2 linked regions of the Homo sapiens genome follow. The protein of the gene in region 2 interacts with the protein of the main gene of each other region in a biochemical or structural test. Each region holds a gene or a part of one and is shown on either strand. Other genes may lie near its edges.

Region 1 (7,126 bases), on a different chromosome or scaffold from region 2:
AGCTGCACATCTCTTGGTTTTCTTCGGCTTATGTAAATTATATTTTTTCTGCATACTTTTACTATAATAAATTGTGATGGCATTATTATTATTATTGCTTAACAACTAACTGTTCAAGAAAACAAAGGCTCTTTTTGGCAACTGCTCTACGAGAGTATTTCCTATGTTATCCTTTTCTGTACTTCTCATATGGCCCTTGGGATTCAGAACACTTGTATTTTGAAGTGCCAGCTAAAATTAGGCAGCTGAAATCCAGGAAAGGTCAGGGGTAAATGATAGCAACCTCTGGAATACTCGGCTGGGTTTGACCTTACTGTCTGGGAAAAAAGCAATTGCTAATTCTGGATTATTTTTGTTGGGTGAAGAAAGGGATTACATGCTGAGAGACACAGACAGGTGAACTTCTGCAGCAATCAGTATGCAGTTATTTAGTGCTCATTTCATTTTGCCTCATATTAAAGTTTATCATCACTGTCTCTTATCAAGTAGGGACCTTGCATTTTGTGAATTTCATCTCATCTTTCACATAGAAAACACTCAAAAAAAGCTTGTGAAATGCAATGAGCAATCCCTAAACCTCATTTCAAACTTTCACCTTTGCTAAGGTACAATAATGATGAAACAATGAAGTGCTCCAAAGGCAGGGAACCAAAGAAAGGAAGACCAAAGAGGCCATTGGAAACTATTACCCGGAAAATCAACCTTGGGAAGTTGCATGTCTGTATATCTGTTTCTTCACAACAATGAAACACACAGTCCAGCCCAGAGACCAGAAATGTGGCATTTTAATTGAATAACTTCATACTTGCTTGATAATTGTATATTTAACATAAATAATGTCCACTTGTCACATTTATATTTCTTTTAAACAATCAATTAGTATTTAATGAATTAGTGTCTGTACAGTGAAAAATAAGGTAGTTGTTAAAAAAACTTAAATTTTTATTGGTTTTGCTTACATAATAAAAAATCAGTAACTATAGCCACTTTAGGCAACCAAAAAATCCTCCCAGATATATAATTTTTTACATTGTTATATTACACTTTTATAAAGTTAGCTACAGCATACCCATGTTTTGCTATAAACTGTATTCCTTTGGCCATATGTAAGCTATCAATACTAAAAGGTGTTTGAACATACATCCACATTAGCAGTGGATAATAAGGGAGAAAATAGGTTAAAATCTTTTATAAATCTTTTGAGCTGTAACATCCATGTTAACAATAATTTTGTCTGTTGCTATATTAAAGTCCTTAATACTAGGAAACATGTTTTGAAGTTGAACGATAGCACCTTTTTCTATCTTGGTTTTGAGTATGTAAAGAAATTATAATTGTTTCTTACTTATCAGTATGTTAAAGTTTTGAATCAAACATTTTTTTAAAAAGCCACTGAATGCAATTTTATTATAAATAATGCAAGTATGCTTTTTGTGTGTAGTTTCAAAATTTGGCAAGATAATTAGAGAACATGATACTGACATGGAGAAGGAAAAGGTATCAGGATGTAAAAATTCAGTACATGGTAATAAAAATAATCTAAAATTTAAATAGAAATTAAATATATTAATAAACTGTGAAAATATTAGTGATTCAAAATTAATTTAAAATTGAGAGTCTAAAATGACTTCTATGATAACAGGCCTCTGAAAAAGTGATTGGGATGAAATTAAAGAACAAGTTTGTGGGTGATTTATAAATAGAATCCATATGGTGTGTGAATTAATTATTATTGCTCTTTCTTTCTGGCCACATTGTTGGGTTTTGGTTTACTGTACCATCACATTCAATATTGACAGAAAACAACATTACTAGCTTATTTCCAACATGTGGCCCAGCCTATTAAAAGAAAAACAAAGTAAAAATTTGGGCATATTTTAAGACCGAGTTAAAGCTCTTGGGCCCAATTTATTTCGAAAGTCACTCTGAGAACATTGCACTGTGTTTTGCTGGAACAAAATCAGGACCTTTTGCATTGATGTGACGAGGCAATGACGAACGTTAGGCTAAGAATGGGAATCTGTCCCCATGGGTTTCCTCCAACCCCACCTCATTTCCTCTCTCTTCCGTTTTCTCTTGTACATACTTTCACACACATCTCATCCCAAGCTATCCTAAGGCACTTTGCTTAGAAGATATAAAAATTAGGCAGGAACGCACAAAGCTAAGAGGTTCTTACGGTCTCAAAAAGCAGTTTTGCCTCTAGATGAAAGAAAAGCACCATGTCAAGCAAACTTTTCTATTGGCTATTTACAAAAATAATACAAAAATTAGTAATAAGCTTTACAGGTAGCTGTTAAATGTACTAATCTGTATGATTTTGAAAAATAGTATTTTAACTATAGCATTATACATATGCTAGAAACCATTTTAACCACAGCATGGGTGAGAGAGGGTGCTACCTGCCCCTTTGTCATGTGGACACTGCACCAGGCAGTTCACAGTCTTTATTATGAGGTCACTGGCATCTCTCCATCGTAAAGCTATGAGCACAGGGCCTGCCCTCATTTAATCATCTACATGCAGTGTATGTAGGTAAGTATTTACAGATGACAAAACCAAACAGAGTTTAAGCTACGATAGTGAAAGAAGAAGATTTTAATAATCCTGAAAAAATTGTAGATAGTATTGTCTTCACAGGGTATGTGAATGACAGATTCAAAAAAGTCTTTTGGGATAGCCTTTCAAACATTCTATTTCTCTTTGTGAGGTTTGATCTTAACTGAATGTAAAGGATGTAATAATTTTCTTTTTAAAAGTATTATATTTTAAATTCAGCTGGCACATGTGCCAGTCTGTTACATGCTGCTTGTTTGTGACATGTTGGTTACATATTGCAGAATGCTGAGGTTTGGGCTTCTAGTGAAAGTGTAATGATTTTCAAAAACAGCCTTGCTCTTTCTGTTACTCCCTCCTGATCATTTAAATGTTTCCAGTGTCCGAAAAATGCAACAACTAAACTGCTCTCTCATTTGCATCTAATTACAATCTGATAATAGTGTGATAATATTAATTGAAAAGTTGTTTTAAAGGATTTTAAAATTTTAAATTGAGTAATTTAAGCTTCATTTAAAAGTTCTGTTTTACAGTGACTTATTCTTCCTTTATATCAGAGTCCCATTGATTTAAAAATAAATCTCTTTTTAGAAAGAATAGAAATTCTGAGTGAGCTCATTTTTAAGCCTAAGTGTTGTGTGAATATCCTGGAAGTTGTTAAGAGCTATGTTGAAGTGCTAACTGTAAAAAATTAAGTGCTTTCACGACGAGGCTTTCTTAATTCCCACTGATTTTCTTTCCATGCCGTAAACAGCTCATAAAATGTCATATGTAGCTGTGAGTGTTAAAATAATTACACTTAATATTTTAATAGTGTGCTGTGCAAATACATAGTTTTTTGTTTTGTTTTGGCAAATGTTTCATTTTGTTTTAATGACTTCGGTCCAATATAAAGAAAATGAAATACAGTGAATAGTTCTTCTTTCAAGATGAGCTGTATTTATTACTGGAACGGAAGTTGTCATATCCGTGATCATTAGCTTTGAACTTTAAGCACGACTGCTTTTCCTCCAAGGACTGTTTTTCTTCAAATGACTGGCACCAGCAGCATAAGCATGACTGTACAAAACAAAGTAACTCATTATATGTTAACATCAGTCACCTTTCCCAACTCTTCCTCCTCTCCAGGGTTCTGACTTTCTTTGTATGATTAGGAGTTCTTGGGCCCTTTCTTTCAGTGCTCTTTTATTTTCCCTCTTAAAAGAATATAATCACAGTAGTAGCATATGATAATTTTTTAACTAAAAAAATGCAGAGAAGAAAAAAACCTACATAGTTAAAATTTCTCAACAAGAGAAAGCCACTTTTAATTGATATTTACTCTTGGTTATTTGATAATATTTGATAAACATATAATTCAAGACTTTTCCCCATGAAAACAGAAATATTTGCACATACATGAAATAAATAAATTATACACATGTATATGTGCATGTGCTGGAGAATGTGAGTATAATTATTTTACTGAGACTGTACTGTATGTATACTCCATAACCTTGTAGATACTTTCACAAACACCTCATCCCAAGTTATTCTAAGCCACTTTGCTGAGAAGATTTAACCTGCTTTTTCTCACTTGACAGTGACATAAATATCTTCTCATGTCAATGAATTTAATACTGCTTTCCTATTTTTTCAGCCATGTATTCTCATATCTCTTTTCAATATTGGTAAACAATAAGGTTATATAGTACAAAAGCATCTCAGTTTTCTTCAATTTTTTTCTTGAAGTTTTTTTAAATATAAAAATTTTTTCATTCTGCTTGTCTTCTGTTCATTCTATTTGTAAAAGAAAATGAGAAGTCCACTGTTTTATGTCTTATAAAATGAGGGTGTTGATCCTGATGGAAGTTCTCTTCCAACTCTAAAATTTGAGTTATGAGTGGGCGAAGAATGTTATAGGCTGCCTTAGTGTTTACGCGGGAGCTACGTTCTTAGCTTTCCAGTAGTGAAATACCATGGACAAATGGATGATTTTCACATTAGGGGAGGGGATATTTTATTTCATGTTAGATTGTTGAAGGAGTGAATGAATAGAAGGATGATAAAATGCAAGCAGCTGAAGAAGGAATTATATGTATTTCACATTGAACAGCACATCACTGTTATACAAAAAAGGAAGAAAGAGGTAAAACCTAAACTATTTTTTTTTTGTTTACCTTGCTATTCTCACAGTCCATGTGAAAAAGGAACTAATTTAGTTATAATAATAATTGCAGCTGCGAAGTTCAGAATCTACCAAAAACAGGGAACAGGGCCTTTAATTCATGTTTAGCCCTTATTTTATTATGTGATGCCTATCAGACATCAATGCATGTAATTTTTATTACTTTTTGGTCAACAATTCCATGAGTGTAACTGATTGGCTGAGGCAGTAGGGAGTGGCTGACTAGGATTTATAGGAAAAAACAATTATAGTGATTTACAAGCAAAAGTTGTATTTAAAAAAATCATCCATGATGTAATAAAAGGGAAACTATAAGATAATTTACTAAATCTGTCTGGATAGATATATTAGCAGTTTTGAAAGCTTATATTTGAGCCATATTACAAAGAGCTTTTTATTTTGGGATAGTCTCTTACCTTAAAGCAGTTTTTGAATCTTTTGCTCACCAAATACAGAGCAATTGGGTTAATGCAGGAATTCAGTGAAGCCATGTTGATACCAATATAGTCCAATACCAACAGAAAGCTGCAACAAAATAACCCAAAATGTGTCTGAAAAATATGCTATTCTGAACATGTAGTCATTGTAGCTTCTGTGCTTTTGTAAGGAAAAAAAATGCCAATATACAATGGTTCTAAATTTATCACTCGTCTTTGCTAACAATGATTCTCTGCCTGTCTCTGTCTGTGTCCCCCTCTAACTCTAGCATTTCTACTGACTTTCCTCCATTTCCCCTTCCCAGGCCCAATTCTTCTCTTTTAAAATAAAATCTCATTTGGAAGTACTGAAGCTGGCTGAAAAGAAGAAATTTAGAAAACGCGTTGGAGAATCGGACCTGACATTTTCCGCCTTGGCACTCACTCATCATCTTGACAACTCTGACTCTCTGTACCCAGTGTTCTTCATACCCCCCCTTCCCTGTCCCTCTCAACAGGACCTCAGATAAAAATTGGGAGTCTCCATGACTTCCTAAGGGTTAGAAAAATGGTAGTCTGTCTTTCTGCCTATAAAAAAGATCGATGGAAACACTTCTGAGTGGCATTTATTTACAAAACCATTTCTAGTTTGCCTTTCTTACCTCAAAAGTTCACATCTATTGGGATCATTCTGATTATAAAGAGTGAGCTTCAGAATCCTGCTGAGGTGAAGGGGAAGCCAGCAGAGGGCAAAGACAAGGACCAGGCAAAAGACGGTTTTGGCCACTTCCCGTCTCTGAAATAAATCCATAGTTTGACCCTTAAAAGATGGCTCATTTTACTCATAGCATTCTATCTTCTAAAACGACATTTAATATTGTCTACAAAAAGTCAGTGGCATATGTAAAAACTCAGGACACTGAGCTTTATATGGAATAGTTAATGTGAAGTGGAACCGAAGTGACTAGAGATTCATCTTTAAAAAGTTCTGATTCTCCCTAGATCCTTTTAGATTATATAGAATATCTCCAAATAAATAATATAAAAATATTCTTTATCTATTTAAAACTACCAGAAACAAGAAAAAGGAAATATGCTCTGGTATATAATAATGTTAGTTTATCATCATCATCATCATAATTTTCATATTCATAATTATAAATTCAACCACGAGTTATCAAATATTTGTATTTTCTTACCTGCTTTAGGTGATCATTTAAAGCAATCTGCATGCCACTTTTCTTTCTCAACATTTCACAGGTCATTAGTGTATAAAAAAATGCAGTGATGGCCAATGGCAAGCAGAAATAGAAACTGAATAGCCACCAATCTTTTGCTGTCTTGTAAAACTATAGGGATGAGAGAATTTTTACGATTAATACTCCTCTGTAAGAAAATCTTATATAACAAATGTTAAACTTAAAAAAATTCATCAGGGAATGATTATCTTCTAAATTAGATCCAGTTTGTATATATCATACAGAATCTTTCAGGCCACACTTACTGAACAAATAAATAGTCATGTTAAATAAAACAAATTTTCCCAAAAATATTTCAGTTCTCTAAGACAATGTGTTATAAGCATGCACAAAAACTTAAGTAGTTAGGCAAAATTTGAAATATTTGGTAATTCAATGCTTTGTCTTCACATAAGAAACTTATCCTTAGAGTATTTTTTGTGTGAAATATAACACCTAAATATGTAAAGATAACTTAGTGTTTAGATGAAGTTCTCATTTTTTAGCAAGTTTGTTTAATGGGAACAACAGATACGAAAAGGTCTAGGTTAACCATTTAGCTCAGTAACATATAAATCTAACCTCGCAAAAAGACAAAATCTGCTTTTGACTTATGTCGTATCTCTTATTCTTTTTCTTCTCTGTTATCTTTTTCATATTGCTTTAGATATATCTGTGTTGGAGAGGAAATTATGTAACCTAGGCAGCACTTTTTTTTTCTTTTTACTAATAGGAAACAAGGAAATAGC
Region 2 (7,281 bases):
CATGTGTCTCTGTGTGTACCTTGCACATACCTGTACCTACTGGCCTTTTTTCCTTTACCTGTTTTCGTAGTCCAACAGCATATAACTCCTGAAGGCATGGACACATAGGGATGTGCCTTTCTGTGTCCCTGTGACACTTACATTGATACCACGTATATAGTGGATGCTGAAGAATGTTGGAGATTCTTTCAGTGATTTTTGTGGTTATTGAACTCTTTAGGGTGAAAAGAATCCTGTCTCGCCAGACTAGAATGATCTCACCATGAATTACCAGTTGCTCAATCAATAATCTGTTCGCCTGGCCTTGTGTGAGGCCCATGGTGGGTAAAAAAGAAGTAAAAGACCTGCCCTCTCTTTTGAGGATCCAGTAATCTGCCTTTAGACTTGGGTAAGAAACACTGCAACTCTGGGCCCTGTGGGTTAGAGGACTGCCTCTGACGCCACTCTGGCCATGCCTCCCACCCCACTGTAAGAGTCTGGGACTCAAAGCCATATGCTCCCTCTTCAAGACCATGTTCCAGGTATTCAGGGGCTGGAATTCCCTACTCACGCATCCCCAAGACCACTTCCAGGGCCTGACACTTGGGGATGAGCAGGGCTCCAGGTACATATCTCCAGGCCTGCAGGGTGACAGCTGCTTACAGGATGTAGGGTGGAAGGAGCTTGGAGGAAGCAGCCTGGGGCATGCACGGGGAGTGCTTGAAGCCAGCGCTGGTGTGGGATGGCGCAGGATAGCAGAGAAGGTACTGGGCCTCCACCACATGTCGATACGGAGTGGCCAGGAGCCCAGGATTCTAAATTAAAAGCTGGACCTGCAAGGCAGCATTTGGAAGCCACATTTGTCCAGATACAGGAGATAACACTTTTTCGTTTCAGGGCTTATCAGATCGATTGAAACCTTTAAATGATTAGCCCTGTGGGAGGTGGGCCTCCATCGCGAACTCTCATTCCAGACTCTACAATGTCAGCGGCAGGCTCTGCTGGGCCGTCAGCTTCCCTCACCTCCGCACGGGTCGGTCAGCAGACTGCACACCCGGAAGGCCCAGGCCTTGGTGGAGGGGTTTCTGTGCCTCAAGGCTGTAGGGCAGGGGAGGGGGCCGTGCCTCTCTAAACTGCCAGAGCCTGTTTGCACACCAGCACTTTACCGCGCTTGGCGGCCGGGGAAGTGCTAAGCCTGTCTTCATTAACAAATACCATGTTGCCTTGTTTCCTTACTTAAAACACTTTGGAGTGTTTTGGCTCAAGTTGAGGGGCTCTACATGTGCAAATGCATAATCAGCTGACAGCAGTTTCAAAATTGCAGGTCTCACTATTGATGGAGAAATGGGAGCGTTGTTATTCCTTGTGTGTAATTTTCTCCAAGAAATGGGGGGATTGATTTAATGTCAACACTCAGAGATTTAATGTGGCCCTGTTACTGGAAAAATACACCTTTGCCAAACTCTGCCTCAAAACAATGTCTACATTGTCTTGCTGCACTCCCTACCCCCATTTCCCATTCCTGAGAAAAAACGGGCTTGAAGGAGGGTTCAGCTCAATACAGGGCTGGATCCTGCCCTCTGTCTCCGTTTCCTGAGCACAGATGGCTCATCAGCGGGGCCTGTCTCTGCCTGGAGGGATCCCACCACCTCTGTTTCTGAGGAACTTGGGTGGGAGGGAGTTAGTGGGGAGAACAAGAGTCAACGAACAGGGTGGGGTCAGTTTTAGGCTCTTGTGTTCAACCCAGCAGGGAGGCGGGGGCGGGGGACTCCCTCCAAGCCTTAGGTCACTATGGGGCTTCCTGGCCCAATTTGCCCTCACTGTCGCAAAAAGGCTTTATGGTGTGTGTTTCAAATGAAAAGAAATTCAATTTGATTTTATTTTGAAAATGCAGCGAGGGGCTGGGCATGGTGGCTCACACCTGTAATCCAGCACTTTGGGAGGCCGAGGCAGGCGGATCACAAGGTCAAGAGATGGAGACCATCCTGGCTAACACAGTGAAACCCTGTCTCTACTAAAAATACAAATAATAACAATAATAATAATTAGCCGGGCGTGGTGGCACATGCCTGTAGTCCCAGCTACTTGGGAGGCTAAGGCAGGAGAATTGCTTGAATCGGGGAGGCAGAGGTTGCAGTGAGCCGAGATCGTGCCATTGCACTCCAGCCTGGGCGACAAGAGCGAGACTCTGTCTCAAAAAAAAAAAAAAAAGAAAAAAAAGAAAAAAAGAAAAGAAAAGAAAAAAGAAAATGCAGAGGGGATGTCAGGACTCCCTTTGAAGTGGATAATTGGTACTACTCAGTGGGGTTCATGGAAACCAAGGTGGTTCATCTCTGGGGACTAGCAAGAAAACCAATGTTTATTGGAAAAGTGGCTTTGGCCACATGTTTCTTCTAGCTATTAGTAATTTGTTCCTCAAATCAAGCTAGTAAGTTAAGGATCTGCTTTCAACTTCTTCCCGCTGAACTGCCTGGCAGGCACCCCCTTTTTCTCTGGCAAGTGATGATTTGGATGTGCACACTCACTAGAACCAGCTTCCACGGGTTTTGCTCTGAACCACACCATCACACTCCTCCTGCCAACGCCAACCATAAACGAAATTGGTCAATGGTTTCAAGCCTTCTTCATCACGCGGCTCTTCTGAGGCTGGTTCCACTTTCAGCTGCATGGCCAGGCCCTCACCCGCCTCTCAGAGGTCACGGAGTGTTCCTTCTGATGTTTGTCTCTTTGAGGAAGCAACTTTCAAAGGCCGGGATGCATCTCTAATGACTGTAATTGCATTTCCCATCTTCTCATTAGCACAAACTGCTGTGCACATGGAAGAAATTCAGTCAGAAACCTCAGGTCTGGCCTCAGGCTGCGGGGTAGGCAGGTGATCTGATCAGGGCGAAGACCCAGACCAGCACGTAGGTTGCCCCACATGCCCTTGGCACAGGAAGAAAAGCCTCTGGAACAGGTGCTATGGTTGTCTTTAATTCTTTCTCGGCTTTCCATGGAATGAGGAGGAGGCCCAGATGGTACTTCCAGAGCCGAGGAGCAGAACCCGGCCCGGAGGAGCTAGGCCGGCCGTGGTTTGGTCTTGAAGAGAATGAAAGCCCACCCATGTTCACAGATCGCAGAGCCCCAGGGCGTTCAGGCCACACCTGCAGCTGGTGCCTTGGGTGAGGCTAAGGGGCTCACAAGTGCAGGCACACATGCCCAGACGCCTGCTGGGCTCCAAGAGTGCTGGCTGCTGCCCAGCTACCCAGACCCTCCATGTCCTTCCATGCCCTCAGCCCCAACTCTCTTCCTGGGGGTTGTGGAGGGCAGGGGGTGCACAGTTCACTCCAGAACCTTCCTAAGACCCAGAGCTGTAGTGGGGAGGGTTGTGAACACCAGTTTCTGAGACCTTTTCAGCCAGGCGGTGGTTCTCGCTCCACACCCTTGGGGGCCCCTGAGCAGGGAGGCCTGGGTGTGCTCACCTAACATTACCCTGTGCTTTGCAGACAGACGGTGCCCTATGGACTGTCCAACTACAGAGGAAGCTTCCGGGGCAAGAGGTCTGCGGGGCCACTTCCAGGGAATCTGCAGCTCTCACATCGGCCACACTTGCGCTGCGCTTGTGTGGGGAGATATGACAAGGCCTGCCTGCACTTTTGCACCCAAACTCTGGACGTCAGCAGGTATGACACCTCCTCCAGTTTCACTCATTTGCAGATATGCATCAACCCTCGGCAAGGCCAGGCCAGGGGCTTCTCAAAGGAGGGTGTAGGATAGTTCAGTCACATCCTGACCTACTGTCGTCCTGTGGGCCAGAGAAAGGAGGTGCTGAGCCCAGAAAAGACCCAGGTCCTCAGCATCAGGAGGGCAGGAGATGCAGCGTCCCCACCCCCTTGCTGCCTTTTGGAACAGAAGCTTCACAGTGGCCGTGGCTACATCTGGTTTCCAGACATATGTTTTTCTGGCCTGCACAGCACTTTGTGAAAATCTGAATAAGTTGCCAACACTTAAAAGATTGAAGAATTAACCCCTGCCAAATGCGTATTTTTAGCCTTCTCGAAAATAGCCCATGATAAGAGTGCAAAAGGCTTATTGGGAGGGGGGGGAACCCAGCACGTAGGACCATCTGGTCTCAGAGCCCCCCTTCTCTTTGGCCACCCTCAGCTGGAACTGAGTGGGGGCATCTCACGTTTGAGTAGGATGTGCAATATCCATTTACCTGTTACCAATTTATCTTACTTTGTAGCCCCTGGAGGCCCCCAAGTTTGAGACCCTGTGGTCTGTCCTGGCTGCCTTAGGGAAGCTTGCAAATCACGTTGAATGGAACCAACAGGCAGACTCCATGTTTGACCCAGGGGCTTTGAGCTGGTATTCACATAACAGGTATTCCTGTTAATGCTCCTTACTCCATCTTTTTCTTAACTTCGGGCCAAGATTCATGAACCCAGTGAGGCAGATTGGCCCTTTCAAAACCCTTCCTGGAGCAGGCGTAGGTGAGCTGCCCTGATGCACACAAAAGACACATAGGCAGGGGTGAGCTCCCAACACCCCAACAAGGCAGACGGTAGCGCTCAGGACCCCAGGATCTGCCGTCTGTGAAACCCAGTGTGAACTGCATGGTTTTTCCCCCCTTCTGGGCTTTTAAACATCCGATGAATAAGTGAGTGGTGAGTATATTCTGTACTTTGGTAGAAATCCACCCACCGAGTGCTCAGCCTTCAGAAACTGTGCCTGAGACGCAGTCCTTGGGGAACGCACTAATGTGCTCATTGGTGGGGAAGAGGAAGTCATAATTTGACACCGAAAAACCAGCCACAGGGAAAGGCAGGTTGATTGATTAAAACCAGCTCTCTCCCCACAGTAATTCAAGGACGGCAGAAAAAACAGACAAAGAAGAGGAAGGGAAGGTGAGAGGTGCCAACAGAGGCCTGTGTCAAAGGAGGTGAAGATGTGACGTGTCATTCCTTCGGGGGTGGGTGGAGGGTGTTTTGAGGGGATGGCATCTGGTCTGGTCCAGTGGGAACCCCAGATCTCATGGGATGCTGCACCCACAAGCAATGGTGCCTTTGGTGGACCGTTTCTGGGGGCAGAGCGGGCTGAAGCTGTGGACAGCTGCTGTCACTTGTCGGTCCCTGGCCACCCTGCTCTGTGTCCTGGGAGCCAGCCCTTGCATCCCTTGTAGCTCTGGGCAGTGATGTCCTGCCTGGATTTCACCTGGCCTGGACAAAGCTAGTCAACCACCGCTCTCAGAGGCCCTGTAGGCTGCTCTGCCCAGACCCACACTTCGCCTCTGCTTCCTTAGCAACATGTGGTCTTTCTCGTCAAAAAAATCATTTATTCTTTTCAGCAGCTGATTCTGGGCAGAGGTGAATTACAGCAGCTTGACAGCAGGGTCCCTTGGTTCTCCAGTTCATTGTATTATTTTTTTTAACCCACTTGTCTTTTTTGTATGAGAGATCCTGAGGGTTTCCTGCAGTCAAACTGGGTTTATTTGTCATTCTATCAATCAGAAGTCATTATTAATGACTCCGCAGCTCATCTGCAATGGGATGGTAATTTATGTTCATAATAATAGCCTGGAGGTGGCTTGGGTTTCTACAGAGACTGATCGAGGGAAGATGAAACCATGCTCAGTATACAGGAGCTTTCCAAATTGGTGGCAGATCGCTTCTAGTCTAGTCCAGAGAGGGATCTGTCAGCAACCATAATAAAAATGGAGCGGGAGGAGGAGGGCCGAGGCGGAAGAGACAGAGCCCGGGAGAGCATGAGTCAGACCCAGATGGTCCCACTTTGCCTCTTCATTCTTTTTCCTCTTTTTCTCTTCCTCACCCCAAACCAAAGCTCCTCTCAGCGAGGGCGGGATGTAATTAAACCCATCCATCCATTGCATCATTTATTCATTCGCTTATGCATTCGTTCAGCAAAGACTTGTTGGGCACCTGCTACGGGCTGGGCACCATTCTCGATGCTGGGGACATAGCAGGAACAAGGCATAGGATCTCTTTTATAGAGCTTAACTAGTGGGGATGCAGACAGCAAACATGTACAATTTAAAGTGAGATTGCAAAGAATAACAGAAAGACACGGCAAGGGTAGGAAGCGTGGGGTGGTTGCAGTTTGAGATGGGGTTGACGTGGCCTCATCTTTCTCACCAGGTGACCTGAAGGAAGGCTGGGAGGAGCCATAGGGATGAGTGAGGGAAAGGGATTTCAGGTAGGGGAACCGGTGAGTGCAAACGCCCTAGAGTGTGCTCAGGGAACGGCCAGAAGGGAGCCCTATATAGGAGAAGCACACCGGTCCTTTTGCTGTTGTGGTGATTATTACTGTTCTATGTCACATGTTCAAAAGATGCAATTGGTGGTGCAGATGTCCCAGCAGGGCCTGGAAAAGTGGTTCTTCCAGGTCTCTATGAGTCATGTAAAGCTCTAGTAAGAAGCTTTACTTGGGAAGAAAAAGTCTCTTATTAAGCCAATGTTCTTGCTTTCTTGCAAGATTCAAGTTAGTAATTCCCAGATTCACATTCTCAGAGTGGAAGCTGTCACCATCCTTAGCTTGTGGTAATCAAAGATGGGGCCAGGCTGCGGGAGGGCCCCTAGCAGCCTTGTCTGCTGGTGTTATTCTTTTCACACTTTTCCAGTCTGGTGGTAGGCTCGGAAATTGCTGAGAAGCACTGGGAAGAGGGTACATACAGTTCCAATCAGGGAACAGGCTGGAGAGGCAGTGGGAAGACGTTCCCTTTTTCAGCTTCACAGAACTACAGAGCTACACTTTCATAACATACCTTTCTTTTTTTTTCTTTTGCCCCCTTTCCCCAAGACAGGTTGAAGTCAAGGACCAACAAAGCAAGCAGGCTTTAGACCTCCACCATCCAAAGCTCATGCCCGGCAGTGGACTCGCCCTCGCTCCATCTACCTGCCCCCGCTGCCTCTTTCAGGAAGGAGCCCCTTAGGAGGACAGGCCTGCAGCATCCTGGTCTCGGGAGGCTTCTGTCATTGCTCACACACAGTTCAGATTTCCACCTCTTTATAGACAAGAAGTGAATTTGCCTGGGGCAGAACACCCACCCAAAGAGTCCCCACTTAACAATACCCCCCCCCCACGGCAAGAATGCCCAAATCCGAATGACCCCAGTTTTCCTAATGAGTAAAATGATCCCAGATGTGCCCCAGAGCATGACGCCTGCAGCTCCGGTTTCATGCAGGAAATTGGTTTTGGAGAGTTTTGGCAAGTTGGAAAGCCACTTACTGGCTTTTGACATGACTTCTCTTGGAGAATAAGTGGACTCCAAGCTAACTCTTTGCAAATGTAAACACATGTCCATCT

What was found.
Region 1: the proteins of EDN3 (region 2) and EDNRB form a complex in vitro, tested with the Homo sapiens proteins (one study listed by BioGRID).

What each region holds. Positions count from the first base shown.
Region 1 is NC_000013.11:77,894,720-77,901,845, forward strand, and holds the end of EDNRB (endothelin receptor type B isoform 1 precursor), read right to left. Parts: intron 6,489-7,126; coding exon 6,339-6,488; intron 5,936-6,338; coding exon 5,802-5,935; intron 5,249-5,801; coding exon 5,140-5,248; intron 3,616-5,139; coding exon 3,481-3,615; 3' UTR 1,840-3,480; coding exon of another isoform or gene 1,723-1,839; 3' UTR 768-1,722; downstream 1-767. UniProt on the Homo sapiens protein: Non-specific receptor for endothelin 1, 2, and 3. Mediates its action by association with G proteins that activate a phosphatidylinositol-calcium second messenger system.
Region 2 is NC_000020.11:59,317,553-59,324,833, forward strand, and holds part of EDN3 (endothelin-3 isoform 1 preproprotein), read left to right. Parts: intron 1-3,464; coding exon 3,465-3,641; intron 3,642-4,805; coding exon of another isoform or gene 4,806-4,819; coding exon 4,820-4,865; coding exon of another isoform or gene 4,866-4,904; exon of another isoform or gene 4,905-4,930; intron 4,931-6,113; exon of another isoform or gene 6,114-6,171; intron 6,172-6,774; coding exon of another isoform or gene 6,775-6,778; coding exon 6,779-6,907; 3' UTR 6,908-7,281. UniProt on the Homo sapiens protein: Endothelins are endothelium-derived vasoconstrictor peptides.